Homo sapiens: one gene and its partners. The protein of the gene in region 5 purifies or fractionates together with the protein of the main gene of each other region. This does not show direct contact. Each region holds a gene or a part of one and is shown on either strand. Other genes may lie near its edges.

What was found.
Region 1: the proteins of SLC22A9 (region 5) and ELOVL2 purify together in Homo sapiens (affinity purification with mass spectrometry; 3 studies listed by BioGRID and IntAct, with this or other methods). This does not show direct contact.
Region 2: the proteins of SLC22A9 (region 5) and ARV1 purify together in Homo sapiens (affinity purification with mass spectrometry; 2 studies listed by BioGRID and IntAct, with this or other methods). This does not show direct contact.
Region 3: the proteins of SLC22A9 (region 5) and SC5D purify together in Homo sapiens (affinity purification with mass spectrometry; 3 studies listed by BioGRID and IntAct, with this or other methods). This does not show direct contact.
Region 4: the proteins of SLC22A9 (region 5) and GPR89A purify together in Homo sapiens (affinity purification with mass spectrometry, with the first as the bait; 3 studies listed by BioGRID). This does not show direct contact.
Region 6: the proteins of SLC22A9 (region 5) and SLC35F5 purify together in Homo sapiens (affinity purification with mass spectrometry; 2 studies listed by BioGRID and IntAct, with this or other methods). This does not show direct contact.
Region 7: the proteins of SLC22A9 (region 5) and SURF4 purify together in Homo sapiens (affinity purification with mass spectrometry; 3 studies listed by BioGRID and IntAct, with this or other methods). This does not show direct contact.

What each region holds. Positions count from the first base shown.
Region 1 is NC_000006.12:11,041,375-11,046,181, reverse strand, and holds the start of ELOVL2 (very long chain fatty acid elongase 2), read left to right. Parts: upstream 1-1,876; 5' UTR 1,877-1,951; coding exon 1,952-1,954; intron 1,955-2,356; exon of another isoform or gene 2,357-2,424; intron 2,425-4,807.
Region 2 is NC_000001.11:230,985,197-230,989,282, reverse strand, and holds part of ARV1 (protein ARV1), read right to left. Parts: intron 964-4,086; coding exon 844-963; intron 1-843. UniProt on the Homo sapiens protein: Plays a role as a mediator in the endoplasmic reticulum (ER) cholesterol and bile acid homeostasis. Participates in sterol transport out of the ER and distribution into plasma membranes.
Region 3 is NC_000011.10:121,302,652-121,306,737, forward strand, and holds part of SC5D (lathosterol oxidase), read left to right. Parts: intron 1-714; 5' UTR 715-724; coding exon 725-934; intron 935-1,709; coding exon 1,710-1,842; intron 1,843-3,734; coding exon 3,735-3,835; intron 3,836-4,086. UniProt on the Homo sapiens protein: Catalyzes the penultimate step of the biosynthesis of cholesterol, the dehydrogenation of lathosterol into 7-dehydrocholesterol (7-DHC).
Region 4 is NC_000001.11:145,621,253-145,625,338, forward strand, and holds part of GPR89A (Golgi pH regulator A), read left to right. Parts: intron 1-1,801; coding exon 1,802-1,908; intron 1,909-2,340; exon of another isoform or gene 2,341-2,360; coding exon 2,361-2,462; intron 2,463-4,086. UniProt on the Homo sapiens protein: Voltage-gated channel that enables the transfer of anions such as iodide, chloride, bromide and fluoride which may function in counter-ion conductance and participates in Golgi acidification.
Region 5 is NC_000011.10:63,368,097-63,372,742, forward strand, and holds the start of SLC22A9 (organic anion transporter 7), read left to right. Parts: upstream 1-1,688; 5' UTR 1,689-1,960; coding exon 1,961-2,362; intron 2,363-3,038; coding exon 3,039-3,142; intron 3,143-4,646. UniProt on the Homo sapiens protein: Sodium-independent organic anion transporter, exhibits high specificity for sulfated conjugates of xenobiotics and steroid hormones such as estrone 3-sulfate (E1S) and dehydroepiandrosterone sulfate (DHEAS).
Region 6 is NC_000002.12:113,721,644-113,725,729, forward strand, and holds part of SLC35F5 (solute carrier family 35 member F5), read right to left. Parts: intron 3,895-4,086; coding exon 3,735-3,894; intron 1,552-3,734; coding exon 1,461-1,551; intron 1-1,460.
Region 7 is NC_000009.12:133,365,976-133,370,061, forward strand, and holds part of SURF4 (surfeit locus protein 4), read right to left. Parts: intron 1,569-4,086; coding exon of another isoform or gene 1,471-1,568; coding exon 1,284-1,470; intron 701-1,283; coding exon 624-700; intron 54-623; coding exon 10-53; intron 1-9. UniProt on the Homo sapiens protein: Endoplasmic reticulum cargo receptor that mediates the export of lipoproteins by recruiting cargos into COPII vesicles to facilitate their secretion.

The DNA of each region.
Region 1 (4,807 bases), on a different chromosome or scaffold from region 5:
AGGGACTGTGTTTTTCTTCATCACTGTAACCCTAGCTGTTACCAAAACGCCTAGCACATAGTAGGCACTGAAATCTTTGCTGAGTGAACAAAGTAAGTGAAGCTGAAATCAAATTGTATCTTTGATTTGGGCCACACTTTTTTATAAAAATATGCCAGCATTAAATAGAATATCACTTTCTGATTCTCAAATGCATCAAATTGATAACAAATCAATAACTAGTACTTTTGTACCAGATATTTTTCTAGAGTTTTACCCATATTAATTTAACCCTAACAGCTACATGTAATGTTAAGTGCTATTTTATCCCAAATTCGTAAATCAGGAAACTGGAGCATAGACAGTTTAGGTAACCAACCCAATACCACACACCCAGTATGTGGCAGAGCTGACTCCTGAGATTTTTATCAGACTAGGTTAACCTGTTTATGGTCATAAAATCATCCGCCTTTTATAAACAAATATATGCCTAATATTTACCACTTCAGCTACAGAAATTCTATATTAGGAAGAAAAACTCTCTATTAGGAAACTATATATTAGGTGATTGTATGACAGTTAAGATTTAGCCCCGGTACCTACAGTTACTCACTCTGCTACTGCACAAAACTCTGCAAGGGCTCCCACACCGCCCCAGGTGTGGGATGCTAAGTGTATGGTGCAGGTACCTCCGTGCACAGCCACACGGGCTGCTCTCAACCCCAATAAACATGTTTACCACATGAGCCTCACATGTGGTAAACATTTTTTTTTTTTTTTTTTTTTTTTGAGACAGGGTCTCATTCTGTCGCCCAGGCTGGAGTGCAGTGGCGTGATCTCGGCTCACTGCAGCCTCCACCTCCAGGGCTCAAGCCATCCTTCACCTCAGCCTCCCGAGTGGCTGGGATCACAGGCGCAGGCCACCACACCCAGCTAATTTTTGTATTTTTTATTTAAGAGGCGGGGTTTCGCCATGTTGCCCAGGCTGGTCCCGAACTCCTGACCTCAAGTGATTCGCCTGCCTCAGCCTCCCAAAGTGCTGGGATTACAGGAGGGAACCACCACGCCCGCCAACTTCCCATGCTTGAGGGAGAAATGGAAGAAAGTTCATGTAATACTCAGGCAAGTCCAATTTTTTCGACGTCTTTCACTTGGGCCACACACACAACTAAAGTAACTAGAAGCGCAGGCTCTAGGAGGCCACCGTTCTGTTCACAGTGAAGAGGGTGCGCTCACCGTTGGTCGTGTCCGCTGGAAGCCCCGCGTCAGGCCGGGAGCGGGACAGAGACTCTTGCTCAGGGCCGTTATCCGAACTGATCCGCTTCCCACCGCACCCCCAGAGAAACCCACCCAACCCCCTAAACCTAAGAAACCCAGACTGCGCAAACCTGCAGGAACAGAGCCATTTCCCCCTAATGTGTGCTTCAAACCCACCGAAGCCCAACTGTAAGCAAGACCAGCGTGCCCGCCCTGCACGATACTGCTTCTCCCCGCAGCAGCGGCTGCCGATCTGGGCAGCGGGTGGGTATTCCTGGGGCTCCGTGGACGTTGAGCCGCCGCGCGAAACCGGCGCCGGCTGGACCTGCAAATCGCCGCCCGGCCGGCAGGGGACGCCGCGGACGCGAGGGCGAGGTCGGTCGCCCAGGAGGGGGCGCGCGAGGCCGCAGGGGCGGGGGGCGCCGCCTCACTTGCCCTGCGCCCCTCCCCCGCGCGCCCTCCTGGCGCGGCGGCCGGCGAGGCCCCTGTGGGAGAGGGGGCGGGGACGAAACGGCCCCGAGGCTCGGAGCGCCGCGCGGCGGCGGCGCGAGCCCGAGGGGGCGGGGAGGCGCGGGCGGGTGTGCGCGCGCCGGGCGTGGGTGTGGGTGGGGGTAACCGGCGCGGGCGCCGAGATAGCGCCGGGCAGAGGGACCCGGCTACCCTGGACAGCGCATCGCCGCCCGCCCGGGTCGCCGCGCCACAGCCGCTGCGGATCATGGTGAGTGGGGCCGCGCGCCGCCACCGACACCGCCGCGCTTTCTTTCTCTCCTGGACCCACGCACCGGGCGGGAAAGGGCCGAGCGGGCGCCGGCGCGGGCGCTGCGGGTTCGCCGCTGGAACCCGCTACCCTCGGAGGGGCCGGGTCCGCGCGGGCCTGGGGAGCGGGAGCTGAGCGTTTGGGCCGGGGGCGCGCGGGTCGGCCCGAGGCCCGCGGGTCTCGGGAACTTTGTCTCGGTCCCCTCTCCCCGGTCCCGCCCCGGCACCTCGAGGCGCCCGCTCGCGCCCAGTCCCCTGTTGCATGCACGGGGCCGGGCGCCCGGGATGCCCGAGGAAGCCGCCCCTCCTTCGCGGCGGCCATTCCCGCGCGCAGCCCACCCTCCGACCCTCCGGACCCCCGAACCTGCTCTCGCCACCGCCCGCCGACGCCTGGAGCGGAGAACGGCGTTTCCCGCGCGCGGCACACACCCTGCCTCGGGAGTTCTGGGGTTCGGGCCCTAACGGTCAAGCTCTTGCCCCTCTCCTCCCTTCACCGCGCCTGCACCCCGGGGGTGTGTCTGTGCACTCGTGGGTGCCTCCTGGGTTTGCAGATTGGCTTGGGAAGCGGCTGGGTTTCTATCAGTGTCTGGGCTCGGAGGGGCTTCTGGTGTGTTCTTTCCGACAACTCCTCTCTCTGCCCGATTTCCCAGGCCAGTCCTCCACTCTGGATTAGTAACGCTTCTTTCTCCTCGGCAGTAAGCTGTGTGTGTGTGTGTGTGTGTTCACCCGTGTCCGATGAACTGCCTGACAGTAAGCTGTGTGTGTGTGTGTGTGTGTGTGTGTGTTCACCCGTGTCCGATGAACTGCCTGACAGTTTTAGTAGCAGAGCCTGGTTCTTTGGTTACAAAGGGAGAACATCTGTTGTGCCATCCTCAAAGGACTGGTCTTTAGGCAAAATGTGAAATCCGCGTTTGTCTTCAGTGGTCCATATTCAGTGTTTGCCTCACCCCCTTCCCGTAGGGTTTTCTCTCCACTTCAGGACTTGTTAAAATAAGCGCACTTCCTTTCTCTTCCCCACTCCATCTGATTTTGCTCTGGCTACCCTTTTAGGCACGTACCATCTGCCTGATTATGTGTGACCACTTAATCTTAAAATTCCAACCTTTCCTACCCCGCCCACCACAGTGTATATTCCCCTTGCCTGCTTCATTTGTCTTCTCTTGAGCATGTATTAGTTAGCGTACTGCATATTTTGTTTCTTTAGCTTGTTTCTTGAACGTCTCCTCTACCAGAATATAGGTTTCAGGAAGACACAGATTTTTGTCATTTCGTTCATTGCTTGCTAGATTTCTAGTACCTACAGCAGTGCCTGGCGCACAGTAGGTACTTGATAACTCTTTTGAATTAACCCAATAAAGCAAGCTGCTTTATGTTAATGCACAGGTGGGGAGTAACTGCAAAGATTATGCAGTTGACATTTGTAATGATGAGAGTCTCAAGTGAAGTTTGGGAGGAGGGAGATACTCCCGACAGGAGGGACCCGATTTTGGCAGCCTTCAATGACGAGTCTAGGCGGCTATCTCTTATGCCTTGTCTGTCGCTTCATGCTCTTTGCACCTTGGCATCAGAGTGGACAAAGCATTTTTAGGACCAACTGGCTCTCCTTTTGGGCTCTGAAGCTTTGTCCTAAAGTATAGGTAGGAATTGTAGTGAGTAAGGGAATAAGTCCAAGGAAATCTCTTTAGCTGAATAGGAAAGTCATGGGAATGTTAACCTAAAAGAGCTAAAATCAAGGGCAAGCTCTTGAAAGCTTTATCCTGCCCAAGTGTGATGCTTCCTGTTTAGATAAGTATTTCTCAGAAACTGTGGGTCTTCAGAGGAATTTTTTTTTAATACCCAAATCCAAATTGTATTACTTTTTTCTTCTTTCTTTTTTTGTGGCAGGGTCTCACTCTGTCACCCAGGCTGGCATGCAGTGATGCAATCTTGGCTCACTGCAACCTCCACCTCCTGGGCTCAAGTGATTCTCGTGCCTCAGCCTCCTGAGTAGCTGGGATTACAGGCGCACGTCACCACACCAGGCCAATCTGTGTATTTTTGGTAGAGACAGAGTTTCACCATGTTGTCCAGTTTGGTCTCTAACTCCTGACCTCAAGTGATCAACACCCACCTCGGCTTCCCAAAGTGCTGGAATTACAAGGCATGAGCCACCATGCCCGGCTGAAATCGTATTACTTTAAAAAAAAAATGGGCAGGGAGTAGGAAAGTTAGGGGGTTGAATTTATAAATAACTTAGTGGGTCAGTTCAGAGAGACATCCTTTTCAATACATGTCCAATATGAACTGTCTTGTAAGATATCTCTGCTAGTTAGTCTTATTATTCCAAAATAAATATTTTTTCTTTCAAATTTCCTTTTGTTTTTCTATAATGTGGATTTATGGCATTGGTTTTTTAAAAATTAGTCTGGAGAAATGTATTAATTGGAAACAAATTGTTTAATAAAATTTACATAAGTTTTTGAAAATTATGTAATTATAGCTATGACTATGTAAGTTCAGCAGTTCTGTGGTTACCATCTTTCCCAGGTAGGTAGTAGAAATTAAAGGTAAAAAGGAAAGAAATATAAGTTTGTCTTTGAAATTAAAACCAATGAACCAACCAAAGATGAATGAAAGATACCTTATTGACTTAAGTTTCTATTTGTAGGATATTTTACTGTTAGGATTCCTAGGATTCCAAAGTATCCAGCCTTTTTCTCTTTCGATTCTTCGAACGTATAGCATTTTCAAGGAGTAAAAAATCAATTTTTAAAGTATCCAGTTGGGTAAGCCTAATTTTTGGTTCTTCAACAAGGGTTCCATTTAATCTAGTTTC
Region 2 (4,086 bases), on a different chromosome or scaffold from region 5:
GCCTGTAATCCCAGCTACTTGGGAGGCTGAGGCAGTAGAACACTTGAACCCAGGAGGTAGAGGCTGCAGTGAGCCGAGATCACGCCACTGCACTTCAGCCTGGGTGACAGAGCAAGACTCCGTCTCAAAAATAAATAAATAAATAAAATAACAGGACCGCCAGTTAAATTTGAGTTTCACACACACCATGAATCCATTTTTATTGTATAAGTATGTTCCATGCAATATTTGGGACATTCTTATACTAAAAAATTAATTCATGGTATATATGAAATTCAAATTTAATTGACTGTCCTGTATGTTATCTGTCAACTCTACCCAAACTATTAAAGAGCTCACAATTCAATAAACTAAAAGTTTATTTTGAAAAATTCAACTTTATAAATCAGGACTTTGATTAAACTGAATGTTATTTACCTTATACATTCCTTTAATAGCAAAGTATAAAATGCAATAAATTATGTTTTAAAAAAACATTTTTCTTTTAATGTTTGCTTAACTCATTTAGGTATAATTCTCTCCCTACCTGGATATGTCTAATTGTATTCTGTTAAAAACCAGTGATGATTGTTTCAATTTACTAGCAGGTAATTCAGATCATGGCTTGTCAGTTTCCTGCCAGTGACCATATTCTTAAACACTCACTAAGCATTGTGCACCTTTCAAAATCAACATCTATTATTTCTAGAAACTTCCAGATATGTTGCAATAAAAGACCCACTCTCACATTAGAATTTCTTTTCCTCTTTTATAATATTCTTTACTTCTGTTTAAAATTCTTATTATTCTTTTAAAATGTAACAGCATCAAATAAAATTAAAAAATGAAATTATCACAACTTACATTTATTTGAGTATTGAAAAGAATATGTCTGTAGGCCTGAGCTTTGCACAATATAGCATTAATCAAGATGATAACAGGATCATACTCGATATATTTGTCTACAGGTTTCTGGCAGGATTTCTGAAATAATACAAGATAATATTAGAACAAGCAAATGTATACTTTCTGAAATCCTCAAGGATTTCAAAACAGCAGAGTCTATTTTGGACACAGATAGCAATATGGCCATATTAGCAATTATTTATATAAACTTCCATTCAGATACAAAATGTTCATCTATATAAGAAAGGGTTTCAGAAAGGACTAAATATAATCTTCTAGGCTAGGAATATTAATATTTTAACGTCATATTCAAGAAGCTAAAAATATATCTAATTTAAAGACTGAGTTTAGGCAGGAAAGTATTCCAGAAGATTTTACTTTCAATCTACAGAGACTCTATGTCCAATTCCACTTTCAATTTGTAGCAATTATTACAAAATAAATATATTTATAATGCACTTTCATTGATAAATTGTTGCCTCTTGGCTAGATGCCCCTGACTTTATGGTTCTTGGCACATGATTTGGAGAAAAGTACTCAGCAGTTACCTTGTCCCCAGAACTACTGAGAGCTGCAAGTAGGTAAAGAATGGGGCATGATCCGAATGATCCTGAGGTGGCCGGTAACAGGGGAAGCCTGGGTTTTTCTCCAGTAACATCAAGGATATGGAAAGAAAATGGTCTTTCTCTGCTAGAGTAGAGACAGACTCTACTGTCTGTACAGTCTGGAGAGTGCTGGGCTGTGCAAGGAACTAGGCTGTGCAGCCTAGCTCTAGGTTCCAGAATCAAGGCTCCCTTGGCTCTTAGCAGTTCACATTAAATGGCTTTATTCCCCCCTGAAGGGTCACCAATTTTGAGTTCAGATTCTCTAGACACATGTGATTACAATGTTACCAAATTCCAACATCACTAGAACATAAAAAACGCAGGTATACACAAACAAGCTCATTAGAAATGTGACCTCTAAAGCAGTACTATTCACAAAAATGCATCAATGCTACCATTCACTTTATAAAACTACAGCAGTCCTCCCGTAGCCACAGTTTTGCTTTCTGCAGTTTGTAACCCGAGGTCAACAGCATTCTGAAAATATGAAATGGAAAAATCCAGAAATAAGCATAAGTTTTAAATTGCATGCTGTCCTGCTCCACTGTCCGGGATGTGAATCATCCCTTTGTCTAGCGTGTCCACGTTGCAGATGCTCCCCGCCTGTTAGTCATCTAGTCGCTGTCCAGGTTAACAGGATTGAGGATTGCAGTACTGCAGTGCTTGTGGTTCAAGTCACCCTTCTTTGACTTAATAATAGCCCCAAAGCATGAGAGTAGTGATGCTGGCAATTTTACAGCCAAAGAGAAGCTGTAAAATCCTTTAAGTGAAAAGGTGAAAGTTCTCAACTAATAAGGAAAAAACCAATCTTATGCTGAGGTTAAGATCTACAGTAAGAATGAATCTTCTACCTGTGCAACTGTAAAGAAAAGAAATTGTGCTAGTTTTGCTGTGGCATTTCAAACTGCAAAAATTAAGGCCACAGTATGTGAGAAGTGCTAAGATGGAAAAGGCAGGGCCAGGTGCCATGGTTCACATCTGTGATACCAGCACTTTGGGAGTCCGAGGTGAGAGGATCGCTTGAAGCCAGAAGTTCGAGCCCATCCTGGGCAACAAAGCAAGACCCTGTCTCGGTCTCTCTCTCTCAAAAAAAAAAAAAAAAAAAAAAAAAAAAAAAAAAAAAATAGGAAAAGTATTACATTTGTGGGTGGAAGGCACGAACAGAAACGTGTTCCGATGGATGGTAATTGGGTTCCATACTATCTGTGGTTTCAGGCACTCACTGTGGGTCCTGGAACATATACCCCAAAGAGAACGGGGACTACTGGAATGGCTACAATTCAAACGCATAACATTTGGAAACTCTGAGAAGATAAAATAGAAGAGTTGCGAGTGTAAAAACCTTCTAGGCTGGCCTTTTAATTACATTAAAGTGCTGGAAGAAAAATGAAGGGCACTGAAGAATACCGACCCTGCAATTCAAATGTAATAAAACATTGGATGTGTTCCCAATTTAAATAGCTTCTCCACTTCATTTGTGTCATTACAAGAATAGGTATGTTTTCCAGTTACCGAGTGATCCAATGAAGGGAGACGTGCTGTTACCTCAAACTTAAATGTGCTTAATCAGGGCCAGGCATGGTGGCTCATGCCTGTAATCCCAGCACTTTTGGGAGTCCGAGGCAGGTGGATCACGAGGTCAGGAAATCGAGACCATCCTGGCTAACATGGTGAAACCCCATCTCTACTAAAAAAAAAATACAAAAAGATTAGGAGGGCGTGGTGGCAGGTGCCTGTAGTCCCAGCAACTACAGGATGAGGCAGGAGAATGGGGCGTGAACCCAGGAGGCGGAGCTTACAGTGAGCTGAGTTCACGCCACTGCACTCCAGCCTGGGCAACACAGCAAGATTCCGTCTCAAAAAAAAAAAAATTCTGCTTAATCAAACTGACGCATAAGGAGTTAATATTTTTGCAGTTCTTTACCTGAGCAGGGAGTAAGCCAGAATCTAAACAGAAGCCCCAGAATCAGAAATTCCATGTCCATGACAAACAGCTGTTTGATAGGTCTCCCTTGGCTACTCACATGGAACACATCTCCTTCCTTTCTACATGCAAGACTGGGACACCAGAGAGGCTGCTTCATGTTAAAATGGAAACCCTAAAAAGTCAGGGGTCCTCTCTCTGTCCTTTAAATATTCTCTAAAACCCGTTTTTGGACAGCATCACAAGTCTAAGGCTGGGGATCTGGACAATACTTGGAAGGAGGTAGGCAGAAACCAGCACCAGGAGACACAGCAGCTGTTATTCCTTTTGCATTCATTTGTTTGACAAATGTCTTTGGAGTGGCTATTACATGTATAACAATCGTTCTCTTTTCTTGGCCATTTTATGGACCAGGAACTTCCAAGGTGCTAGATATTCACCTTCAGCCACAGTTTCTATCCTCAAGGATCTAACAGTTTAGAAGCAGAAGACAAACATGCCTCTATGATATGGTCTCATGACCACAGTCATCAGACTATGTAACATCCAACGGCTACAATGGGATAAGCACAGGGTGATATGAAATCAAACAGAGGAGGCAGCTTCTGGTAGTATGTGATATGCTGTGTGCTTTGCCCATTTCCCTTCTTAGCATTCGGCATGTTTTATAAA
Region 3 (4,086 bases), about 58 Mb from region 5:
ATGTAAACATCTGGGTGTCGCTGTGTTCCATAAAGATTTTTACAAAGCAGGCTCTGAGTTTGGCCCGTGGGCTGCAATTTACCAACTCCCGATCTGGAATATTGATTAGAGGTAGAGAAATAAATGTATTCCAGTTCTTAACACCAAGAATACATCTTCCTTTGTTCTGTCAATGGGAGTGTCAGAAGAACAGATAGTCCCAATTCTATGGTTGTGGTGGCAGCATGGATATCTTTTAGGGAATTTATCTTAGGTGTCAGTGCTGAAGCAAAAATCTCTGAAGTATGAATCCTTGAAGGAGAGAGATGAGCTGAAACTTGTAGCTGAAAGAGGAAACTATTTGTCTGAGTACCTAGTCCCCTGCATTCCCATCTTTACCACTTGCCATGCTGCCATAGGACGCGGTAGGGAATGACACTGAAATGGAATTCCATCTGGGCTTGTGCCACTTAGCAGCTTGATGACCTTTCCTGGGCCTCAGTTTCTCTAACTGAGCTTTAGCATCCCCATACATAGTATGAAGAGATTGGACTAGAGATGATATCTAAGATCCCTTCTGGCTCTAAAGATGGCATGTAGGGGATTCTGATAGCAGCAGATGTACTGCATATGACTGTTCTTAAATCAGGAACTTGAGATATAGTGTTTCTGAAAAATTTTTGCCTGGAAAAATAGAGACATGGTAACTAATTGTCACACATGCTTATTTTTTAGGGGCTAAGTGATGGATCTTGTACTCCGTGTTGCAGATTACTATTTTTTTACACCATACGTGTATCCAGCCACATGGCCAGAAGATGACATCTTCCGACAAGCTATTAGTCTTCTGATTGTAACAAATGTTGGTGCTTACATCCTTTATTTCTTCTGTGCAACACTGAGCTATTATTTTGTCTTCGATCATGCATTAATGAAACATCCACAATTTTTAAAGGTAAGAAATGTTTTTACCTATTTTCTAACGATTAAAGTAAAAATAACAATATGATATATTTCTGAGATTTTTAGATTAAGCTGATTATATGTAACCATTAAATAAAATTTTGGAGACCAACCACAAATGGGTTAGATATTTTCATGAGGGTTAATCCCTGCTCTCCTTCCCTTAGTTTAAGCAAATCTAACTTTTTAATAAAACTATAAGTCTAGTATCGTATCTTGCTAGATGCATATTGGAGCATTTTTATGCTGATATTGATGAGTAAATAAATGCATACATTTATGTAATTATTTTAATATATGATTTTCACAAACTGAAATGTGTTTTTTTACCATGTTTTGTTTTTTGGCTAGATAGGGGATTCAAACTCAGTAGTTTTAAAGTTGTTTACAATCATTTTTAAATTTCGGTTGTTTGTACTTGTCAGTGACTCCAAGGACTGAACAGCAAAAAGAAAAAATAGAGAGGATTGGGGATGGAAGTTAATTAGGAAAGAAATGGTTATTCCATAAATAGAAGTTTAGAATGCAGATTTTGGAGGAAGGAAAAAAGGTTTCAGAATTTGAAATACTTATTGCATTTTCTCAGTACAAAAGGAATGATTTTCTTACATACCTATTTTTATGTATTTAAAATTTTAATAGAAACAGTTTGGAGGTAAGCCCCTTCATGTAAAAGAGATTTTAAAAATCCAGTCCAGAACAGTTTTATGCTAGTTTTGTTTAACATGGATTTTGTGATTTTTAAGTATTGGAAATTTCACTTTCAGAATCAAGTCCGTCGAGAGATTAAGTTTACTGTCCAGGCATTGCCATGGATAAGTATTCTTACTGTTGCACTGTTCTTGCTGGAGATAAGAGGTTACAGCAAATTACATGATGACCTAGGAGAGTTTCCATATGGTAAGTAAATAACACGAGTGTCAGGAAGAGAGTAGTCTAAGCACAGGTTAGTTTCCTTAAAAAAACAAGTCTGCCCTTTTTTTTTTCATCTTTTAAAATAATTACAAATTATTCAGTTGTTTTTTAATGTTCTATTTTCATGTGTTCATGTCTTGCCACATGTGCATTTCTTTAGTTTTTCTATCAATCTGAAAGTCTGCTGTAGATGAGATTGTGTCTGGCGGAAGATTGGAGTGATCAGAGATGGGTCCTTGCATTTGTTTTCTATTAATTATTGAATTCAACCTTCTAAAAAAAACTTGAGTAGCTTATGTCATTGCTGAAAGTTAAAAACAGATTTTTAAAATGCATTATTCTGCTTCTTAGAAACTGTAACTCTTCTGGCATACAACCACCCACTTTTCTGTGCCTGTATACTTCATTGTTTACATTACACAAATGAAGTCCTGAGGTGCATAGTGGTTTGGGCTCTGAATTTTGTTTCTCTTAGCAACTTACATGGTTGTATTTTCATGTCAAAAAAATCTTGAGATTATGTAATATATTAGTCATAGTACTGTGCGGATATTCATAAGTTATGTAAATGATACCTAATTGTTAGACCTTCAGATTGTTACTCTTTTTTGTATTATAAACAGCCCTGTAGTGAGTAAACTTTTGTGAAATTCTGAAACTTTTTCAAGATACATTTCTAGGATCTAGTATGTAAAAAGCAAGAATCATAGTATTTATTGAAGGCTGATATGTGTCAGTGACAGTTCTCAGCTCTTCACAAGAATCAGTCCATTGTTTTCCTACAATTCTATGAGATAGGTACTATCACTGTGCTCCTTTTATAGGTGAGTCAATGAGGTGTACAGAGAGTTTCAGTAACGAGTTGGTGGTAGATCTGAGACTTGGACTCAGGCTTGCAGGCACCAGCACCCCCACACTTTAAGTAAGAAGTTAGTTATTGCCGGGCGCGGTGGCTCAATCCTGTAATCCCAGCACTTTGGGAGACCGAGGTAGGAGGATCACGAGGTCAGGAGTATGAGACCATCCTGGCCAACATGGTGAAACCCCATCTCTACTAAAATACAAAAAATTAGCGGGGTGTGGTGGTGCACACCTGTAGTCCCAGCTACTCAGGAGGGTGAGGCAGGAGAATCCCTTGAACCTGGGAGGCAGAGATTGCGCCACTGCACTCCAGCCTGGGCGACAGAGCGAGACTCCGTCTCAAAAAAAAAAAAGAAAAAAAAAGTCAGTTATTCAGAAGAAGGAACAAAAAATTATATACTAGAGTAATGAATTGGCTGGGCTTTGAAAAATGGATATGATTATGAGTTAAAATAAAGGGAGAGAGGACATTTTAGGTTCTTGAACCCCTATGATGAAAGATACAGAGGTAAAACTTCCAAGACAGTGGGAGGACATTGAGTAAACCTGCCTGGTTAGAGTAGAAATACAGGAGTGATGAGGTTGGAAAGATCCGAAAGGGGTGGAGTATGGAATAAATGCTAAATTTAAAGTATTTAGTGGAAAGTATATTTTAAGCAGGGAGATAATGTGTAAAGATGGGTTTTAGGAAGATTAATATGAAGGAAGTGATGATTCCCAGAGATTTAAATAATAAAGATGTCTTAGGAGTATCCTGTCTCACAAATATCTTTATAGTTTAATTAAGAAGTACTTTAGGTAGAACATTTCAAGTACTTATGCGAGGGAAATGAGGAAATGACCAGATTCCAAGAAGCCAAGAGAGATTAGTTTATAATATACTGAATTAGCCAGAACAGATCATTTATAATGTTTGAGTCTAGGATCCCATTTTGCACTCAGATGGACATGTGAAAAGTGAACTCTAATCCCAGGAGCTGAGTTTTGATTCTTCTGTTTCCCGTTTTCTTTTCTAGGATTGTTTGAACTTGTCGTTAGTATAATATCTTTCCTCTTTTTCACTGACATGTTCATCTACTGGATTCACAGAGGCCTTCATCATAGACTGGTATATAAGGTAAAGTCATTTGTGGTGAAAAGAGAAAAAAGGTTACACATTTCAGCAATGTATGATTATAAATTCTGTTCTCTATTTCCAAGAATTTCCTCTACCCATATTAAATGTCTAAGTAGCCATAATCATAACAGGTACAGGGTGCATTTTGTTCATATTCTTCTTTATGGGTCTAAGGGGCTGTCTTAAAATTCGTCTGTTCCGGTAACAGGTACACATGGACTTACAGAGGGAACAATAGACATTAGAGACTC
Region 4 (4,086 bases), on a different chromosome or scaffold from region 5:
TTTCATTGTAATCTTGTTAATAATTCAGTAACAATAAATGATAATTATGCTTCCTTTGAGGAATTAATTTTTATTTTCTTACAGACATGATGATTTTATCTAACTGATCAAATTTTTTATTTCACATTGACCATTAGAAAACTTAAAGCTAAATTTATGACCTACCCATAGCAACTTTCTAGAATTCTGTTTTATAATAGCCATCAGGCTTGGCCCAATATTTTACCTGTTACCATTGTTGTTCATATTTCCTTATAGTTCATTTCATCATCCTGTATTTTATTTATCTTTGTAAGCCATTTAACCACTTAGGCCTTTTTTGAAACAAGGCTTAAGTAAGTTTAAAATCAGTAAATACAAAGGACACCATCAAGAAAGTGAACCAACATTCCAAAAACAAGAGAAAATTTTTATAAATTACCTATCTGATAATGGACTGGGACTCGTATCTAGAATATATAAAGAATTCTTATAGTTTAATCATATAATACAATTAAAAAATGAATAAAGGATCTGAATAGGCATTTCTCCAGAGATGATATACAAATGGCCAGTAAGCACATATGAATAGATGCCCAATACCATTAGCCATCAAGGAAATGCAAATCAAAACCACAATGAGATACCACTTCACACCAACTAAAATGGCTATAACCAAAAAAAAAACAGAAAATAACAAGTGTTGGCGAGGCTGAGGAGAAACTGGAACTCTCATACACTCCTGAGGAAAATGTAAAATGATGCAGCCACATTGGGAAACAGTGGGAGTGCCTAAAAGATTAAATATAGATTTATCATATGACCCAACAATTCCACTCCATTTCTACCTAAAGAGAAATGAAAACATACGTCCACACCAGAATGTATACACACACATTCCTAGCGTCTCTATTTATAATAGCTAAAAACAACCCAAATGTCCTCAATTAATGAATGCAGAAACAAAATATAATATATCCATATAATGGGATGAATATTGTTCAACCATAAAAGGAATTATTGATAGATACTACAACATGGATGAACCTTGCAAACATTATGGTAAGTAAAAGAAGCCAGTCACAAAAGATTACATATTGGTGGTTTCCTAGAAACAGAAAGTATATTGGTGGTTTCCTAGAGCTGAGGAGATTGGGGAGAAACAGGGAGTGACTGCTAATGGGTACAGGGTTTCTTTATGGCGTAATGAAAATGTTCTAAAATTGATTTAGGTGATGGTTGCACAACTCTTGAGTATACAAAAACCATTGAATTGTACACTTTAAATGGGTAAATTATATCTCATTAAAACTGTTATAAAAAGTGCTAACAAAAAGTTTTAATAAATGAAGTACATCTTATAAACTAATAAAAGTAATTCATGCAAATCAGGTGTTTATATCAAGAGTACAAAAGAAATATTTTTGAGTATAACATATATTACTGTTAACATTTATTTTCCTTTAATTCTTACATTGGAATGAGATTCCTAGGGGTGGGTAAAACAATAGTCATTCTACCAGCAATGGCATATGTTGATACATGTTAATGGTATATGTTGCCTATGAATATATCAAAAACATAAACATTCTTATTTTAATATATGAAATTCTTAAGATGTTAAGATGGTCATATATACCTTTCAAAAATTTGTATTTTTTAATCTCTACAAATGAGTAGATTTTAAGAGCCTAGTAGGCTGATTAGATAGGATATATTCAATATTGAGTCCAAAGAGCAAAAGGACCCTTTGGAAGACTAAAGAGAAAGAAAGTTGCTGCCCTCTCTTCCTCCCAGTGACAGTCTTTGACATTTATTTCAGCTCCCGTTATTTTCACTGGAAAATGAACCTGTGTGTAATTCTGCTGATCCTGGTTTTCATGGTGCCTTTTTACATTGGCTATTTTATTGTGAGCAATATCCGACTACGTAAGTATTTTACCCTCTCAGTCAGCATATAGATTGAGATGAGTATTTGAGGGGACTTAAATTGTGGATAGCTTCATTTCTACATTAACTTTCAGTATCTACCGCTATTTGAGGATACCTCACACACAACATCTTAAAAATAAATATAAAATAAATATTGAATGAATTGGCACAAAATAAATATTGAATGAATGATTAGGTTATTTGTTCTGCCACAGCTTTATTTTTCTACCTATTAATAATGTCTCCTTTAGTTCATCCCACACCTTAAATTCAGCTAAATTTCTCTTACGATGGTAAGGATGCTTTCACTAAAAATTATGCTGTTCATCAGTCATTTGCCAAGTGAATTAGCAGCCAAATATTAGTTAGCATTATCTTATATTTTTAAATAGAGCAAGCTCTTTAACCTATATCTGTTTTTCCTAACAGTTTTGTCTCCTCTGTCTCAGTGCATAAACAACGACTGCTTTTTTCCTGTCTCTTATGGCTGACCTTTATGTATTTCTTCTGGAAACTAGGAGATCCCTTTCCCATTCTCAGCCCAAAACATGGTGAGTATATATAGGAGGGCAGAGGAAGTGGGGGGAGACGATTTGTTTAATTTTCTGATTTCAAAAACAATTAATTAAATTTCTTGGGGAAAAAATGTATTTGGGGAAATAATTTATTAATTCACAGGTTCTTGGGATTTGGAAAAAAATTTTTCTGATTGAGGAGGATAGCAAGCTATTTCTCTGAAAAATGTCTGATTTTGAACCACATTTTCTCCTTCATTCTAAGAGATAACTAATGCTGGTTTTGGACCTCACTTCTGTCATTCTAGAGTAGGAATTTTTGACCTTCATTTACTGAATATACTTAAAGGGTATAAGGAAAGAGAACGGTGTCTAACTCATATTGTATATGGAACTACAGGAATATATTTGTATGTGTATTTGGAGGTAAGGTATCAATAAACTTTTATCAGATTTGGGTAGCAGATTTGGGTCTGTGACCCAAAAGGTAAACGGCCACTGCTTAAGTGATGATAAAGATACATTAGGGAAGCATATGTATTTGAGGAAAGGTGACATAAAACACCCACAATTAGTAGATAAAGAAAAGCTTTCCAAGAATCGGTGTCTCCCCTCTAACAAAAAAAGTTTATTTTAAAACAAGAAATTTGGCAGAGCCCTAATTTTTAAGCTAAAAACAATGAACAAAAGTACCTCAGCTAACAAGTCCTTCCAGAACTATTTCAGAAGTATGTATGAATCTATCTAAAAAGATTAGAGAATCTATCTAAAAAGATTAGAGAGCCCATCTGTAATAAATATACTACAGGTTTCATGCTGGAACCTTTTTAAAAAAATCTATATATATATACCTCTTTATTCACCATCCTGCCGTACCTATTACTAGGCTTCTTATTGCAGAAAACAGAATCTACTGTAACTAATTTAAAGCAGAAAGTGATTAATTATACAGTATCAGGCAATTTATAGACTTTCTAGGAAAGTAGGGATGCAAAGCTTAACTGCTATATAGTGAAGAGAAATACCCAACTATGCCACAATACTAAACTAGAAAACCTCACTGAAGTTATCACCTGCCACTCAGGGTCTATGACATCAGGGACCTCAGTCCCAGCTGTTTGAGCTCCTAAGTGCTATCACCACCCCTACATTGTTCATTTCTGCATCTGAGGCCTCACATGGGCCGGGTTTTTTGGTGAAACCTAGGTAATATTTAAAACCTTGGCCTCAAGGAAGTCTGAGAAGGGGCTTTTGGCTTTCTAAACTCTGTAGTACCAAAACAAATGCTGGAAAAGGATATTGGAATTAATGTTGAATGAGCCAGTGTCTATTATAGAATCTGCCATACCTCCCACACACCCTTCCATGTATACTGATTGCCTATAGCAGGAATTTCGGGAGAGAGGTTATGAGACTCTCCTGCAGTAAGATCAGAGGAGATATGCAGTTTTGAAAAGCATATGCAATACCATAAATAGTTGTGTATTTTTAAAATAAGAATAACTTTCAAAATTTCAAATAACGTTAAAGGCCGGAAAACTTAACATAACACCAGCCTGCCAAAAGCATTCAAACTCTTAGGTGGCGTATGAGACCTTTCATGACCTGGCTGCTGCTCTCTATACATGTTGCATTCTCCAGTCCTGTGAAATTATTTCAA
Region 5 (4,646 bases):
CCATAAAAAAGGATGAGTTCGTGTCATTTGTAGGGACATGGATGAAGCTGGAAACCATTATTCTCAGCAAACTATTGCAAGGACAAAAAACCAAACACCGCATGTTCTCACTCATAGGTTGGAATTGAACAATGAGAACACATGGACACAGGAAGGGGAACATCACACACCGGGGCCAGTTGTGGGGTGGGGAGACAGGGGAGGGATAGCATTAGGAGATATACCTAATGTTAAATGACGAATTAATGGGTGCAGCACACCAACATGGCACATGTATACATATGTAACTAATCTGCACGTTGTGCACATGTACCCTAAAACTTAAAGTATAATTTTAAAAAAAAGAAAATGTGGCACATATATACCATGGAATACTATGCAGCCATAAAAAATGATGAGTTCACATCCTTTGTAGGGACATGGATGAAGCTGGAAACCATCATTCTCAGCAACCTATCGCAAGGACAAAAAACCAAACACCACATGTTCTCACTCATAGGTGGGAATTGAACAATGAGAACACATGGACACAGGAAGGGGAACATCACACACCAGGGACTGTTGTTAGGTGGGGGTAGGGGGGAGGGATAGCATTAGGAGATATACCTAATGCTAAATGATGAGTTAATGGGTGCAGCACACCAATATGGCACATGTATACATATGTAACAAACCTGCACGTTGTGTACATGTACCCTAAAACTTGAAGTATAATTTAAAAAAAAGAAAAAGAAACATTATGTTAAATGAATTAAGCCAGATATACAAAGTCAAGTATTTTATGATTCAATGTATAAATCAAATGTCCACAATAGGCAAATCCTTAGAATCAGAAAGTAAATTAGCGGTTGCTAAGTGGGATGTGTGAATAAAAATGGAGAGTTACTGCTAATGGGTATGGTTTCCTATGTGGTGATTAAAATGCTCTGTAACGATATAGTAGTGATGATTGCACAACTCTTTGAATGATCAAAACACATTCAATTGTATACTTTAAAAGGGTAAATTGTATGGTAAATGAATTATACTTCAAGGAGGTTTAAATTTTAATAGAAATTTTAGTCCTAATCAAGGTGACATTTTCTCCCATATTTTGCCTCCAATTCTTCCACAGCACATAGTGCATCTCACATAATATTTATAATGTTGGAGTGCAATTGTTTATGTACTCTCTCTTACTTACTCAACTATAAGATCCTTGAACTTGTCACACACGTTACTTTAGGAACTAGCATGGAAAAGGTCTTCACAAATACTATCTGAAAAATCAATAAGCCAGTAAAAGTAAACCTCCATATGAGCTTACTCCTCTGCTTTTCATCACCATCTATTCTGTCCACATTTCAAGCAATGTATTTCCAGCATGAATTTGTGGTGTGATTTGACATGAAGGAGAACATCAGTCACCAAAATGAAAGGATTGTACCACAGTACCCTTATTTTAGTTTAACTTCGACTTTTTTAGATTAACTCTTAATCAAAAATTGGTACTTAACAAGGAAAAACTTGCCTTCTGTTGTTTTCAGAGAAGTAAAAAAAGCACCTCACCTTTGAGTCGCCAAAATTATGCTTCCTGGAATGACCGCATACCATGTAGCAGGTTTATTTTAGTTTGTTTACAGAAAAGTGTAGACCAAAGTCCAGTGCTGACTTTGGGAGCTACTAAAGACATGAAAAAGTAGAATTTTAAACACATTTCATTGTAAACGACTGGGAGTATCTGAGCAAATTATTTCTTACGTGACTTTAGAGAAAACGGCTACCTATCTGACCCCAAAACGACTTGAGGAAACTGTTTCCACGGTCCTGCTGCAGAGGGGAAGCACAGTCGTCAAGAAGAGAGTGGGGTCAGGATCAAAACACATTTAGTGTGACTTAGGGAAAGAAAACATTTTCCCTCTTTGAACCTCTCTGGATACAGTCATTTTGCCTCTACTTGAGGATCAACTGTTCAACCTCAATGGCCTTTCAGGACCTCCTGGGTCACGCTGGTGACCTGTGGAGATTCCAGATCCTTCAGACTGTTTTTCTCTCAATCTTTGCTGTTGCTACATACCTTCATTTTATGCTGGAGAACTTCACTGCATTCATACCTGGCCATCGCTGCTGGGTCCACATCCTGGACAATGACACTGTCTCTGACAATGACACTGGGGCCCTCAGCCAAGATGCACTCTTGAGAATCTCCATCCCACTGGACTCAAACATGAGGCCAGAGAAGTGTCGTCGCTTTGTTCATCCTCAGTGGCAGCTCCTTCACCTGAATGGGACCTTCCCCAACACAAGTGACGCAGACATGGAGCCCTGTGTGGATGGCTGGGTGTATGACAGAATCTCCTTCTCATCCACCATCGTGACTGAGGTAAGAGGCTCTGTTCTCGTCTCATGAGTATGTGACCTGGGTGTTTAGAATAACACAAGTAATAATCATGCTTCCAGCCTTCAGTCACATGTAGGTCCTTAGTCTTCATTCTTTCAGCAAATACTAATTGCTTCTTTATTAAATGTCTGACACCTACACATTTTGAGTAATGAATTCCAAAGTAGAAGGCATCCTGCTATTATAATGCTTTAAGTCACAGGGAGACCAAAGTTTAAACAAGCATTTATATATAATATGTTAAAATGTTCTGCTAGGTCAGTGATGCTCAGCCTGTCATTGCAAATTAGAAATATCTGGGAAATTGAGAAAAGCCTCCATGCCCAGAGTATACCCTAAAACAATCATATGAGAAGGTCTAAGAGGGAAATTTAGGTTTCTAAAAGTTTTTAAAGGTCTTCAAGTGATTGCACCATGTGGTCATGTTTGAGAACCATTTAGTATGAAATAAAAACCTATAGGTTTAGGAAAGTCTTCCAAGAGAAAGTTATGTTTAAGTTGAGACCTGAATAACAAAGGTCAGGTAATGCTGAGAAAGGAAGCCACAGAGGAAGTTAGAGACTTAATATTAGGAAACTTGCAGATCATGCTAAGAAGTTTTGATCAAGTTACACTGAGGGGTAATAAGCATTGATGTGCTGGCTTCCTTCTCTTCCAGTGGGATCTGGTATGTGACTCTCAATCACTGACTTCAGTGGCTAAATTTGTATTCATGGCTGGAATGATGGTGGGAGGCATCCTAGGCGGTCATTTATCAGACAGGTGAGTGTGTATGGAACACAGCTCTCTTTAAGGGCATTTTTTATCAACTTATGAAACATTATTTCATCTAGAATTACTTACTGCAAATTACATTCTCCTGAGGCTGCCCTGATCCCCAAACAGAAAAGGAAATTTTTAGTCCGTGTTTTGAGTGCTATTTTTAAAATTTGAGCTCTGTATGCAGGACACAGAAATGATATCTCCATGTGAACTGGGGGTGTTTCAAGACAGGTTTTAGAGAGAAGGTACCACAACATGTGGTTTAGAAATATGAGAAAGAGTTAACTAAGGGAATAGAAAGGAAGACGTTTCATCACATAGGATTCAGCCTTGGCCAGGAGTACCAGGTCCAGTCCTACCTGGACACTGTGAGCTGATAGCTTGTGCCCAGAGAATTGTCATTACATCATAGTTCCAAGTGTGATGAACACGCATTCCTCTAAAACCTGTAGGGTATATTTGAAGGTATCATTGGTGGTGTGTTGAAAAATTATGTGTAGAAACTTGATTATTGTCTTTGCAAAAACAGCTTTTTAGAACCATGTGAGGTAAGTAATCCAAGGATAATACTATCTCAGTCTGTGGTGTGAGAAGTTTGGGGTATTCACCTTGCTGTATGTCTCCTGACATGGCAGGGAACAATTACCTTCACCCAACCATGTCTCCCCTGATGGCGATGAGGGACTTGAAGTGCCACTTGCCATCCACCAACATCATGTCTTCTGGTGTCTCACCTGAAAATTTGAACCTTGAATGTACGACAGGAAATGGAATGTAGAATGAGCTAAGAGTCAGAGGGTTAATTTCCAATAGTTAGTCACCCAGTCCTCTGTGATACTGTCCTGGGAAAATGCAGATAGACCAATTTTAATAGATCACAGGGTGGTAAAAGAAGGGGTAGGAGATGCCAGGCAGGAGATGACAGTGGAGAATCAGCTAAAGACGAAGGGACAAGATAACCTAAGGATTTTGGTATTTCTCACAAACCTAAGAGGAAATATTATGTGATTATATGCAGAGTAGGCTATGATCAAACTGATTGTTTTGGAATAACTCACTCAACTGTTTATGATATCTTAAAATCGGAAATAATCTATAATTTCATTAATAATAGGTTAATAAATAAGCAGATATTCACATAATGAATTTTTACAGCAAAGGGAATGAATAAAGTACTGTCTGCAATAAGGTGAATTAACATCAAAACCATTTGGTTAGGTACCACAAGACCAACAAAAAGATTACATACTATAGTGTTCCACCAATGTAAAAGTCAAAAACAAGGAACTACATTATGATGTGAGAAAAGGGAGAAATCTAATTTCCTTTAGATTTCTATTGGAATTGCATTAAATCTAAACAGCAGTTTGGGTAAGACTGACATTTTTTAAATACTGAATTTTCTGATCTATAAATATAATATTGCTTTTAATTAAGGTAGACTTTTGTTTAATTTCCCTTTGCAATATTTTATAGTTTATGATAAAAGTCATGTACTTTTTAT
Region 6 (4,086 bases), on a different chromosome or scaffold from region 5:
CCTCTAACAAGTAGCACCTTCCCAGTTTCACAACCAGTTTGGTTCATATTCAGGATTATGACCTGAAGATGAAGAAGGGCCTAGATATTACTTAAATCTATAAAAGAATGATGTGTAATAATGTGCAATGTTAGTGTTATATGGAATATCCACATTCTTTGAAAATGCAAGTTATGTAAGATAATTAATTCTCAATTAAGGAAAGAATCTCAGTTCTTTAACCATGACAAATAAGAATTTACTGACCATAAAACAAAGTTAAATATCAGTAAAGAATTATTTTATAAATAAAGAGGATATAGAGCACTAAGCATATTTTGCTTTTATCTTTTTTTTTTTTTTTTTTTTTGAGATGGAGTCTTGTTCTGTTGCCCAGGCTGGAGCGCAGTGGCATGATCTTGGCTCACTGCAACCTCCGCCTCCCGGGTTCAAGTGATTCTCCTGCCTCAGCCTCCCAAGTAGCTGGGATTACAGGTGCACGCCATCACACCCAGCTAATTTTTGTATTTTTAGTAGAGACGGGGTTTCACCATGCTGGCCAGGCTGGTCTCGAACTCCTAACCTCAAGTGATCTGCCTGCCTCGGCCTCCCAAGTGCTGGGATTACAGGCGTGAGCCACTGTGCCTGGCTAAGACCTAGAGAAAAATAGGTTTAAAATTTTGATTATTGCTTGTACACATTATAAGCCTTTGGGCCTTGAAGTATTTCCCTCTTCAAATTATATTAGACTAAAACACACATACATACACACACACACACACACATACTTCTGTGACTTAGTAGTTGCAGTTAAAAGTTAAATGCCTACATATACTGAACTGTGTGATAAATGGCTATGCTCCATCTTTCAGTGCTGGGCAACAGCATACCTCTGTTCTTCCTGCTTCACCCAAGAGCACTGAATAAACTCTTCCCTTCTAGGCTGCTGGCAGAAACATCCCAGATTCTCTTTTCTGCGGTGTTAGCATTGCCAATATTTATCACAAGAATCCCCACATCCATACTAGGCCTTCAGAGAAAAGGGATGGGATACCCACTCTGCTGAGTCCAGAGAGAGATGGCTAACTTTTACTGCAAACAGCATGATTCCTGTGCTGCTCATTCAGCACAGTGTTAAGGAGCCTGTGATAGGGTTTATCGCAGAAACTAAAATGCTTGTATGATAAAATGTGACTTACCAAAGAACATCTGGAACAGAATCAGCTCAAAAACTGGAGAACTACATATGAAGATGATGCCCTTAACTTAGAAATTTAGGGAAAAAAATGGAAAAGCTAAAAATGGAAATTATCTATTTCTTCGGTACTTTCTATATTTCTATGTAGTAAAGCACCTTGGGAGAGAAAGCATCAAGTATTATTTATGTTTGTATCCTTATAATTTAATCACATCTCAACTTTCATTAGGTTTGTTTTAATAACACACCTAAAATATCTATGAATAATAAATAGTTTCCTTACCTTTTGCATACACATGTCAGCTATTATGGACAGAGGTATTGTAAGGCTTAGTGCAAGTGTGCCTATCAATGATGAGGTAAGAAAGCAGCCCCTAAAAAAAAGAAAATATACATTTCTATATTTAAAAAATTAAACCAAAGAAAAACACTGAACAAAGACTTTCTATCCTATAATATAGGCCTGTGAGATCAGGAGCAAAGATAAGAGGCTAGGATGGATTGAAACATAAAATATAATAAAGTTATTAAGATGATTCTCAGTTTTTCTTCAAATATTAAAAATACAAATATATAAGTATAAAAAGCTCAAAATATTTTATGCTATTTTCAAGAGCTGTTTGCAGATCTTATTCAACTTTGGGTGTATAGCTTATATTTCATTAATTTTTTTAAAAAACTGTTGAACAGTTATTACCGTTTTGTGATGATTTGTAGATAACAAAGAAAACAGCATTATTAACATTGCAGGACAATACTTCACACATAGACTTTAAGGAAGTGATAAGCCAACATGTGATTCTGTCACCAAGCAAAAATATCTCACCTTCATGAACACTAAAATCATGTGTTACTCTTTTGATTTGGCTTGGCATAAAAAAAGAAAGACTTGAATATTCTTAAAAAATATTTTCTTGTTGTTTTCCATTTTTCTAACAATTGTCCTAACCAAAAGCTAAGTAAGCTCTTTATTTTCACCTTGAATTAACAATGTGGGTATGAAATTTTGAAATATCTATCTGCATACAATTTTGTTGAATTGAAAGAAAATATTATACCCAATGGAGACAGATGAGCCATTTATAAAGACTGATAATTTGGGCATATAAGGAGAAAATGAATTATAAGCCAAGATAAAACCATAATGTATATTGTTAGGACTACAGATCCATGGAAGTTATAGGCAAGTAAAATCTAGCTCAGTATATGTCAGAATTAATAGTGCTGTCCTGCAATAAAAGGGGCTATCTCTCAATAAAGTGTCACTAGAAGTAATGAACAGAGGCTGAACAACGAGTCCTTATTGATGAGGTAAAGGAAACAAGTACTTGTGGTTCCCACTACTTAGCTGCTCTGTGAAAAGAGCATTCGGGGTCAAATACAGCATATGTTCTTGGATGTTTATCATGCAGAGTACTATAATAAAAAACCTGGGAGGTAGAATTATAAAGCCTGTTTGACTTAATCCAGCTGTTAAGGTGGATCCAATTTAGCTAAAGGCTAAAGCCTTTTGTCATCTGTTAATAGTTAAGGTTAAAAAAATCGAGTATCTAAAATGTACATAACTAAAGATGAAAAAATTAATGAGCAAATGGATTATGATTTTAAAGAATTTTAGATCAGCAAAGGAGTTTAGATAAGAACATAAATTACTACAATACAAAGTAAATCTTTAAGTATTACACAAAAGAGAGTGATATGGGGGATACCAAGAAAATAGGTATTTCTTAACTGGGCAGGGAGACAGCACTGTAGGCAGAGCATTAAGGAAGACTCCACAAAAAAGTCTATTTCTGTTGCAGTCTTTTGCAAGGGAAAACTAGTTAGCAGTTTCAATGGGTATGTAATAAAACTCATTTTATTCACTTAGGTTTTATTCATTCTATTCATTTCAAGTTTCTATTAAATAAAAATAGGACTAAGTATAAAGCTCTGTTATTTGAAAGGTCTCTCAAACTCCATACATGATACTGTCTTCATACTATTTTAAGTTTATTATCGCATATCAGTATATTGGATATACAGCATATCAAAGTATGTTAACATCTCAAATCAATCAGAGTTTAAGGTTTACATATCTGGCTCACCCATATGAAAGGTTCTGAAAATAAATAAAACAAAAACACCTATGAACAAGCAAACAGATATTCCAAAGCCTCTTAAATAAGCAGCATCTCCTGGATTCTCAACTAGAACTCATGCACTCATACTTGGCATACATACCTCATATGTTTGGATATCCATTAGATAATGACTACTTTCATTTGCATAACACTCCACTTTCTAAAACATTTTTACAGATTTAGACCATTCATATTCATTCTTTCATTCAACAAGTATTTATTGAGCTCCTTCTGTGGACAAGGTACTACTCTAGAATGGGCACACAGAAGTTAAAAAACAAAGTCCCTGCTCTAGTGGAGTTAAAGTATTCAGTTGTATGTGTGTTGCAGAATGGGGTGCACAGGAAGGGCCACCAGCAAACAGACAAATATAAATGCTTAAAATATCCAAAAATTAATCAACTGATAATAATTGGAGAATAAACAGTACATACCACAACCACAGGAACTCTGAGAGTACTGTTCCAATAAGGCCATTAATGATAATGCACATTAATACTACTTTATTGGGAAACTCGAAGTCCTCAAATCCAGTATAATGAAGTAAAAAGAAACCTGGCCATAAGAGCAGCAGATTAAACAAACCTACAAAACCTGAACATGTATAAAAGAGACAAGAGTTAAAATTGATTTATTTCTATTTTCCAAGCTTATTAACTCTAAAATCAAAATTAGATTTTGCACAAAAGCACTCTGGGAGGTTTCCTTAGCTAAAACTTCTGTTGGTTTGTTTTTAAGTCAGTCCTGTGAATAGCTCAACGCCATAGAAAAAAAAACTGTCTGAAG
Region 7 (4,086 bases), on a different chromosome or scaffold from region 5:
TGCACATACCTCATCAAAAACTTCAAGTCCCATAAAATGCTGTAGGCAATCGTCTGAGGGGAAAGAAGAGAGAGATACTTGAGTCTCAGCCTTTCCAAAGGCATTTCCACAGACTTCATAATACATTAGGCCGTCTCTCCAATGTCAGCTGGAGTCTAAAACACACAAAACCATTGTAGGAGACCGAGGACAGATCTAAGCTCAAAAATGTGGTTCTGTATTTCTCAAGAAATGTGCTATGATGTTCCAGAGAACAAAGTGATTCTGAGACCACTGATGTGGATTCAGATATTCTGTTCCCAGCATTTCATTCTGAATAACCAAGTATTCTTCTTTATGAAGCAACGTGATAACAAGACAGCATCCTGGCTGCAGCCAAGCTCGAGACTTCCCTTGTCACGGTAATCATAGAAATGGGACAAAAGATGGCCCAGTACCGAATGACCTGCCTCTACAGCCCTGCTTGGGCTCACGACTTCCCCAGAAGAGAAAGGAGCTCCAGGCAGTCAGAGACATGCAGGGGGCTGAAGGGGGAGTGACACTGAACCCTCAAGGATGTCTTTTCAGAAGCTCTGCTCCACCAGAGCAAAGAGAAGGGAGCCCCGACCACGCGGCCCGTGTACCTGCAGAGCTATGATTCCAAAGAGCCCGAAGCAGGCGTACTGCACGAAGTTCCTGCTCAACACCAGGACGCAGCCAGCTGGAGAGAAGGACAAGGGTTAGGGGGCCTGAGGGTGGGTGCCGGCGGGGAGCACTGTCTTGATACACTGCTACCTCACCTGGCCCTTAGGTCCAGAGGCAGCCAAACCACCTACCCAAGCAAAAGACAACTTCTGGAAGAATTAATGATAGGCAAGGACCACACATGGTAAGCTGACTAGACTTATCACAAACACCAGAAAGTGGAGCCCTTGCCGTCATAAAGAATGGGCTGTTTCCCACAATCAGCTCCCAAGTCAGCCACCCACCTGAGGTAGGCAATTAACTGCTCTACTGTGGACTGCCAGCCAGACTCCAGCATCTCCTGCTTTGGGTCCCTGACAGGGACCATGTCCTATTTCCTTAGCAAGCTCTAAAGCAGTGAGCTCAGGGCTAGAGACTAAGCGTCCCCACCAAGGCTTGCAGAACCGGACTCCTGGCCTGGCACAGCTGAGCTGGAGAAGAGGGGAATGGAGGGGGGACAGCAGTCCAGGAGACCCCCGAGTTCACACACAGCCTCCCAACTGCTAACGATCATGGAACAAGACGCCCAGTGAATCCTGACCACCCGCAGAGCCACTCACTCAGCTGTCCCAGCAAGTTGAGGAAGACGAAGGACGAGGCCAGCAGGTAGCCGCAGTTCCAGGTGGTGTCGATGTAGTCGCGCTGCTCGCTCCACTGGAACCACATACGGATGCCGTCCTCCAGGAAGGTGCTGATCAGACAGAGGCGCGCCACGTGGGGCAGGTACTGCTTTGTGACACGGAGGAACTGCAGGGCCACAGAAACCCAAGGGTGAGGTGGCTGCGGCGGGGAGCACCAGGCCGCTGCCAGGCACGTCCTTGGGCGGGGTGTGTGAGGAACAGACGCTGTGGAAGGCAAGAGCTCTTGTCAGCCCCGGTGCCTTCCCAGGGCAGACTAGGGGGCTCTCAGTGCTTGCTCCTGAGCGCTACCCTGTGAGTCTGGACACATGCAACAATCCAAGGATCAGTCCCGGAGATGCATGACTTGACGTTAGGCCCTCTGGGGCAGATCCTATAGGGCAGCAGCCCTAACACTCTGCTACCGTGATTTCCCCCAGTGCCTCGGCAGGCAACTACAGTCTTCCAAGGTGGCACTGCCACAAGACACAGAGCTGCTCTTTTCGGTCAAAGGCATTTACAAGTTGGAATCACAGAATGACATCTGAAAAGGCACTTAGAGGTCATCTATCCAACGTTTCTGCACCTCAGCACTACTGGCATCTGAGGCCAGGCCACTCTTTGCCGTGGGTCATCCTGGGTGCTGCAGGCTATGACGCACGACATGTCTGCCCACGACATGCCAGCAGCAGCCTCCCTCCTGAGGCACCGCTGCACTTTGCCAGGCATCTCCGCTGCTCTGGTCCAACCCCTCACCTTACAAATGGCTATATTAAACCCAGCGGGAAGGGGTTCCCCTAGGCTTCGCAGACCTGATGGTGCAATGCCAAGACTTGACCCCAGCCTGCAGGTCACACATGGCTGAGGTGCCAAGGGCCTGGACCTCCCAGCCTGCCCAGTGACGCCCAGAGTACCCTGACAGAACAAGGGTTGGCTTAGGTGACAGCCAGGGTGCCACACCTAGAGGGCCACATGGTTGACTGAATAGTAAGATCACGTTTACAGTTATCCGAAAATCTCCAGAGCAGCAGGAGGAGGCCCCAGGCTCTGGACAGCGCATGTGTGCTGTTGCAAACCAGGGCTGGCGCTTCCCAGCCCGACGGAGCTCTCCCCTGCAAGCTCAGGATCTGACGTGGGGACTGTGTGTGCAGCAACCGTCAGCGCAGCATGAAGCTGGTACCGCTAATGGCTAGAAAGCGCTGGGATTTTGTCAAAGCCTGCATAATCTCGAGCAAATTAAAACACACTAACAAATGGGATGGACAGCTGTTTCAACAGCAATGAAACGCAAGTGTGTGAAATCACTGTCAAATGTCAAAGGGAAAGAAAACATTTATGACTTCCTGCTGTGCTGTGAGTCAGGTCATTTATGACGGCTGGGTTAGGTAGCCAACATGCACTATCGGATGCCAGGTACAAATGTCACGCAGGTTCACCCCATGCACTTTTCTCTTATCACCCATGCAAAACTGAGATATAAAGTGAAAGAAATACTGTAACACAGCAAGTCCTTCGGAGAAAGATCAGGGGACCCATCCACCAACGCATGTTGGGAAGCCAGAGTCTAAAGAGCACCCGAGAGGCTGACCCCCACGGGAGGCGAGCGAACGTCAGCTGCACAGGCCTCCTAGGGCTGACTAAACCTACTGTTGGAACAAAGGAAGATATGCGTGTTTCTTATTTTTCAGCATTTTTAAAAGTTGCTTCAAAGTCCTAGACACTGCTGAAGCTGCCCATCTCAGTTACCACGCCCCTGGGTGTTCAGGTCACCCTCCAGCCTGTCAGGTGGGGCCCTGACTAGGTCAGCACTGCAGATTGGCTCCCATGTGGCAGAGAACGGAGGCAGAGATTACAAAGCCAGGTGGCCATTCTCCCCAAACCCACTGCGCCCTGCAGTGTCAGTTCTGCACACATTTACTCAGCCTTTGACTCCACGGAAGTGATGGGAGAAATCACAGTGACCGACAGATACCCAGAGAATCACCAAGTGGGTTTGGGAGATGAAGTGCAGGTGGAGGTTCTGAGGCCCTGTGATCTCATCCTGCCCTGGTACCATCCAGCCAGCACACCGTGTGACCTGGACACGCCCAGTTACTTTTTTGAGAGTGTCTCTACTATCCTGCAGTAGAGTGAGGCCACCTGAACTAATGGTTGGTAAGATGCTTTCCAACTTTACTAGGAGGAAGACCTTGTTTCACTTTTTATTTTTAAAAAGGCCCCAAATACTCCCCTGTGAATTTTAGGGCCAATGCAGAGAACCAGCACAAGATGCCCATGTGCACAGTGTGACGCAACCTGCATCACACTGGGTGGTGGGAAAGGTGACGCCACACACCCTCCCCAGGTTCTGCCTCATGGCCCCGTTGCTCTCTAAATGCCCAGCAACAGTGTAATCACCCATATTCCATGGAAGAGAGAAAGCACACCACCGTGGCACACGATGTGCCACTGCTCTCAAGGAATGGCCTCACATCGTGGCCCAGCTGGGAAGCCCCAGCAAGGACACAAGCCTTTATCTCATCTGAACCTGGGGAAAAGCAACCACTGGGAAGGAAGAGCTCAACAGGAGGCTGTCCAGACCTCTGAGATGAGACGGAGCCGTGGTGGGACTCCCAGGGCAGGGTGTGGGTGTGGGGCGTGGACCCCAACAGCAGCAGAGAGGTAGACTGCAATCCATACCCAAGACAGACACCAGAGGTGTTCTGACTTGCTTCTAAAATGAGAGCTGTGAGCCACTCACTGGCCT